Homo sapiens: one gene and its partner. The protein of the gene in region 1 purifies or fractionates together with the protein of each later gene. This does not show direct contact. Each region holds a gene or a part of one and is shown in the gene's direction. Other genes may lie near its edges.

Region 1 (3,349 bases):
TCAGGGCCTAGTCATTTCCCTCAGTCTTCCATGAACGCAGACACTGTTGATCTTGTGACTCTGTGCTGTGAAAATAGGAAAATATAGCAAGTAGGGTGTTACTCTCATATTCATGGTCCAAGACTGGTTTGCTTCCACATCATCAGGCCCGGCAACCTTATGGAGTGAAGTGAGGAAAGGGGCAAGCCTCTTTAAGGACCAACCCAGAAGTTCTACACCTGTTTCCCACACATTCCAGTGGCTAGAACTTAGTCACAGGACCACAGCTAGATGCAAGGGCGTCTAGGAGATCTCACCCAGCCATATGCTGGATAAAAAGGAAGAGCAGACAGCTAGCAGTCTGTTATTTGGGGTGGAGTGGATAACGAATGACTGTCTCTTAGCTTTAGTGTATCTAGATGGATCTTTACCCCAGGCAGTTGACAATATAGGTTGAAAGCTTTTGAAAAAGGTAGCATCTTAGATACAGTTTGAAGAGGCATCAGCTTATAAACTATAGTTATAACCTTTTATATGGTTAGTCTTCTTTTGTCTGCCTCCACGTCGTTCATGTGGGCAACACATCCCACCAGCAGAATTGCAGAGTTTGGAGAGGAAGGAAACCTGCTACTCTTATCCACTTTTGAGAGTCACTGAGGTAGATGACATTTGATATCTAGGACCCAGGCAGACATACAGACTGGAAGGTGGCCAAGACTCCTGGGGAACAGGAATACCACAGACATAGTACCCTGTAGCTTTTCATAGGAAAAACTGGCAGAGCGTGCCTGGCACTTGCAACATAAAGGTTCTGGGGAGTGGCTGCAGTGATGCGGCTGTAGAGTCAAAATCTGCTTGAGGGAAAATCCCTGATTATGCAGAGCAGATGAGCTTTGGGTTATATTTTTTCTGGTGCATGAATGGGCCACATGTTTCTATTTAAGTAGTATTCCAGCCTGCCTTGTTAATATCTTTGTGAAGTGTTTCGTGCCAACACTAAAAATATTCTGATTTTAGGGTACCCAGTTCACACATTTCACCCATAAGGAAATGAAGATAACCCTTTCTAGATTTTTATATAAACAGTTTAAGGAAAAGTATCCAATAGAAACCAGTGTTTTCAAGAATTCAACAGTGTCCTTAAAGTTCCCAAGTTACTTTACAATTTTTTTTTCATTCTTTAGGCACCAATAGCCCAAATGAATTAAGAACTATTTCCTACATAACTTTCTATTTTCCTCCTTTAACACTTTTAAAAAGGACTATTTTCAGAAGGACAATTATTTTGTACTTTGTGAGAAAATTTCCAAGGTGTTTATATTGTTTTATGTGTCTGTCATAGGAAGGAAAATCACCTCGGCAGTGTTTGAAGGAAGGATACTGCAACTCTTTGAAGTACGCATTTTTTGAGTGTAAAAGATCAGTGGTAAGTGGTTAAAGATTTTTAAAAGCCTATGCTAAAAATTAGCTATAGGGAGGTTAAATATATGAATGACTTAATAGTTATAGGTAAGTTGCAGTGATATGGTTTGGAAAAAATTACATAGATAATATTTCTTCCTCCAGTGAGTTAACGTTAGGTAGCGTTCATAAAAACCCACAGCTCATTGTTATGTTCTTCTGTCACCGTGCTAACTACAGCTGCTGAACTTCATGCATTTCTGAAAGTGTGAGAATGAAGTCTCGGCAGGTATATACGGGTAAAAGTTGATGTTGGCCACTCGAGTTCAGATCAGTTGGCAATTGTATACAAACATATAATGTGGAGCTCCAAGGTGTATACATTTGTGCCTTATGTGACTAAGAGAAAATGTCAGTATCTGTGTTTGAATTTTGGAGGGATGGATTGTAGAAATAGGGCCTAAAAAGAGATTACAAATCTCTGGGGTTCATTCTAACATTCTTTGATTTGGAAGATGTATGGAGATCTTTGGAATGGAAACTGAGACCCTTTTCTTGGAGAAATGTATAAAACCAAAAATATGAGCATCCCATTAAAGGAAGAAAGCACTTGGACTTGAGGATGTTTTTTTTTTGTTTTTTGTTTTTTGTTTGAGACGGAGTCTCACTTTGTCACCAGGCTGGAGTGCAGTGGCGCAATCTCAGATCACTGCAACCTCTGCCTCCTGGGTTCAAGAGATTCTCCTGCCTCAGCCTCCTGAGTAGCTGGGATTACAGGCGCCTGCCACTGTGCCCAGCTAATTTTTGTATTTTTTTAGTAGAGATGGGATTTCACCATGTTGGCCAGGCTGGTCTTGAACTCCTGACCTCAGGTGATCTGCCTGCCTCGGCTTCCCAAAGTGCTGGGATTACAGGAGTGAGCCACCACACCTGGCCTTGAGCATGCTTTTGTTTGCTTAGGAACTACACTGCAAATCCCTTCCTTTTTGTTAACAAAAGAAATGGAGGGTACTGATACTTACGACCTGCAAGTGGTTGTAAACAAAGAACTTGGAGCATGTTTGCCAGCTAATCAGATCCAGGGAGGGTGTAAAGTTAGATTAAATTTGGCCCTGCTCTGTTTACTTTCTTAAGTGACATCTTTTCCTGTCATTCAGTGTGAATAGAGGAGGATTTTCTTGCCTTCTCTCACATAGATTTGTTACCCATGTAAAATGCAAACCTTTAACTTTGTCAAGAATTTCAAAGCGTGTGCAGTAAACCCTCTGAAATTCTCTACCTAAAGCTCAGTCTTCGATCTCCAAAGAACGAAGTCAGATTTTTTTTTATTTTTACAATTTATCTACTTTCAGCAGAAATTTTTAACAATCTTACATAAAAAGTAAAATGATCTTACCATTTCTAAATATCAGTACAAGGCAGAGTTTCACATATACTTTGACACTGAGAAGAGCACCTTAGGGACCCTTTTTTTTTTTTTTTTTGAGATGGAGTCTCGCTCTGTTGCCCGGGCTGGAGTGCAGTAGTGTGATCTTGGCTCGCTGCAACCTCTGCGTCCTGGGTTCAAGTGATTCTCGTGCTTCAGCCTCCCGAGTAGCTGGGACTACAGGCAGCTGCCACCATGCCCAGCTAAGTTTTATATTTTTAGTAGAGATGGGGTTTCGCCATGTTGGCCAGGCTGGTCTCAAACTCCTGATCCACCCACCTCTCCCTCCCAGAGTGCTGGGATTACAGGCATGAGCCATTAACACCCGACCAGCTTAGGGACCTTTTTATAATCTTTCTCCAAGACCATGTTTTACTGTTAGTCCTCCAAAATGAGTAGAGTCATATCGCTGTTAATGCAACTTGTTATACATGCTTGGCAAAAAACCCAGAAATATAAACATTTAAATTGTGTGGGTAATTTTGTATGCTATTAAAGTGAGTGTGCATCTTATTGAAGGTGAGATGGGAAGTTTGAATCTGC
Region 2 (3,500 bases), on another chromosome or scaffold:
AGTGATTTTCAATTGACCCTGAACATGTCTGATCTTGTTTGATCTCAGAAGCTAAGCAGGATTGAGCCTGGCTAGTACTTGGATGGGAGACCTGGCCATTTTTATGTTGTGACTCTCTGGGTCTCATTCAAATATTCAAATATCAGAGAAAGTGTGTGCACTACCTATTACTGCCAGCTGGTGGTGGAAGTTGAGGTTCCCCCACTCAGCTTCTCTTGATGCGATAGGGTGAAAGCCCAAGCTCCCTTCACAGTCTCAACTGACATCACAGTGCATGGAATTTCATTTTTGGCCAGTAGGAATGAAAGCACCATTCTTCACTCTGTCTTTTCTGACACCATCCCAGTGAATGGTGTTGTGTACCTCCCTAGAGCCTGACAAGGGGGCAGTCTAAGCTCTCTTCTTGGCCTTTGGTGGTCCGTGTGGAAGTAGAGTTGCAATTTCTTCTGTGGTGTTTGGCTAAGATAGAGTGGTTACTATCTAAAAGTTTTCTGTCCTGCTAGGCTGACCCTTTCATGGTCCTTTGGTTAGAGAGAGAAGGCTTTTCTCAGGACTTTTGTTGTCCATTGATGTAACTAGATCACCAGCTTGCCCAACACTGATCTAATATATGAAGCAAAAAGAAAATCCAGGAACTCACTGCTGTGTCATTTCTCAGGTCCCAAGATTCCTAACCAATCATTTCTCTTTTCACCAATTTGGGTCTTTTTATATTTGTTTTATATATAATGTCCAGGGTTTTTAGCTGCAATTAACAGGAAGGCTAGGGAAAAGTATTTTTTTTCTTTTTTCTTTCTTTTTTTTTTTTGTGAAGCAACAAAAGTAGAGATTTATTGAAAATGAAAGCACACTCCACAGGGTGGGAGTGGGCTGAGCAATTGGCTCAAGTGCACAGTTATATAATTTTATGTGGTTTAAATGTCCTCTAGAGGTTTCCCATTGGTAACTTGGTGTACACTCTATGTAAATGAAGTAGTGGCCCGTTATCAGTCGGATTGGTTGCAGAAAGTGACCAATCAGAGGCTGAAGTTACAAAGTTAAACCTTAAACAACGTCTGATTGGTTGTGGAAAGTATTTTTACTCCATCTTCCCAGAAGCTGAAGTTGTCTGTTTTTTAAACCATTTTTCTTTAAAGAAATAAGAATAATCTAGTAAAAGAGTTTCCCCTCTCTTTAAAATTTGAGATAAGCCAGGTGCAGTGGCTCACACCTGTAATCCCAGCACTTTAGGAGGCCAAGGCTGGTGGATCACTTGAGGTCAGGAGTTCGAGACCAGCCTGGCCAACACAGTGAAATCCGTTCTCTACTCAAAATACAAAAATTCACCAGGTGTGTTGGTGCATACCTGTAGTCCCAGCTACTTGGGAGGCTGAGGTGGAAGAATTGCTTGAACCCAGGGGGCAGAGATTGCAGTGAACTGAGATCATGCCACTACACTCCAGCCTAGGCGACAGAGTGAGACTCTGGTAAAAAAACAAAAACAAAACAAAAAAAACCAAAAATATTTAGATAGCTCTATACTTTAAAGTTAAACTTAATTATAATTATATTCTTCTCACCTCAGGCAAAATTCAGGCAGTTGGCAATACACTTAGGGAGATTCATTTTATTATTTGATTATTGACTGTCTCATCTCTTCTAATCTTTTAAATAAAGAATAATGTAAAAATTAAATTTTGCTGATAGAATTCTACTTTGTGACAAAGATGATACTTTATCATGGAAAAAATAATAAATATTTGTTATAAATACTAGCTATGCTATCTTCAGGAATATTATTTGGATTACTTAAACACACTATTGACAAAATGCCTTATATCACCTTTCTAATTTGCCATATCAAAGTAAAATTATTAATAAGTTTGCTAGTAGGAAAAAAAAAACTTTCACTTATATTGCCTATTTTCAAATGTTAATAAAACTAAACCATTAATCCTTTCTTCCTGCAGATGAGGGGTATGTCTGATAAGTCACTCCGACTAGTGCTGTCCACATTTAGCAACATACGGGAGGAGCTTGGACATCTTCAAAATGATATGACAGTAAGATTTATTTTGATTTTTTCCAAAGCCTTTCTAGTTACTAGCTTCCTAATACAGAAATAAAGATGTCCAGTATATGTTTTTAAAATTTAATATAGCACAATATTATGCTTATTCAGACAAAGCTAAATTATTTTCTTCAAACAGTTAATTGGCATTGAGAGAGGAGAAAAGAGGTATCCAAAGTATAAATGAAAGAATGTTGGATGTGCACTTATCATTTAGTTTACCACTAAGGCAATTTAATGCTTAAAGCCAGAGAGTCATCTGCAAAGTTAAAATAATCTGACTCATTGGAGGTAAATTCCCCCTTTTTCATAATTATAAAGCATACTCTGAATTTCCATTCAAATATAATAACTTGAAAACATTTTTCTCCAAAAAATTAATTTTTTTCCATTTTCTATTTTAATTGGTGTTCTTGGTGCCATCAGCTAGATACATTCAGAATGCTTTCCACACATTGAATAATGCCTTGAGGACTTTGGAGTAGTTTTGTTGTTTCTGGGTTATGATGAACATATTTAGACTCTAATTTAAAAATTTACCACTCGCTGGGATTAACGAGGACTCTTTGTAGATTGGAGGAAAACATTAAAACATTTCAGAGGGTTGTGCTTCATTTCATGTATAGTTAGTCCATCAAAATGTCTCTTTCAATGAAGGTTTTAGAAGTTTCAATCATTTCCTATCCCGTATTTTCTTAACTTTTAAGAATTCTGCTTTATTAAGCAAGTACAAATGAAACAAGTGCTTATTTAAATCTTCCAAGGTAAGCAAGTCTTTGTATTATGTGACTGTTAAGTTTTTGCAATTCTGAATCATAATAAATAATTTATGCTTCTAGTCACTGGAAAATGACAAGATGAGACTTGAGAAAGATTTATCATTCAAAGACACTCAATTAAAAGAGTACGAAGAACTCTTGGCATCAGTGAGAGCAAATAATCACCAGCAGCAGGTAAACTGATGCTTTTATTGGTGTTAATCTACATTGATAGCTTTTCATATGCACAATTACTGGCACATTGGAGTTATGAGATATAATCAAGACAGAATTAAATATGATGGAAAAATTTGTTCATATGAGAATTGAGTGGCTTTGGGTATTTCTAATGGCTGAAAGCCCTCTCAGAAAAACAGATAATCTTATCTATTTTAGATATAAAGTACATATGGGACACAATTATTTGTCTTGTTGGGTGACCAGAATTGTAGAAATACTAAAAATCTAGGTTCATGCATTTATTTAATGTACTAACATGTCAATGAGAAAAGCTGTTGTAGACCTTAATACATGTTTGTGCAATAAATAAATGACTGAAAAAACTCTAGATGAATTCTCTGGATGTCTGAGCAGAGAGAATTCCTAGGAAATTGTAAGTAGTCTCTAAGGATTACCCTCTTCCTGATCTTTACTCCTATGGCTGTCCCAAATTCTTGCTCAGTTACTAGTTG

What was found. Proteins that work in one complex are often made in the same cells at the same time.
Region 2: the proteins of COA5 (region 1) and POF1B purify together in Homo sapiens (affinity purification with mass spectrometry; one large-scale study listed by BioGRID and IntAct). This does not show direct contact.

What each region holds. Positions count from the first base shown.
Region 1 is NC_000002.12:98,602,164-98,605,512, reverse strand, and holds part of COA5 (cytochrome c oxidase assembly factor 5), read left to right. Parts: intron 1-1,321; coding exon 1,322-1,405; intron 1,406-3,349. UniProt on the Homo sapiens protein: Involved in an early step of the mitochondrial complex IV assembly process.
Region 2 is NC_000023.11:85,306,666-85,310,165, reverse strand, and holds part of POF1B (protein POF1B), read left to right. Parts: intron 1-1,949; coding exon 1,950-2,042; intron 2,043-2,889; coding exon 2,890-3,003; intron 3,004-3,500. UniProt on the Homo sapiens protein: Plays a key role in the organization of epithelial monolayers by regulating the actin cytoskeleton. May be involved in ovary development.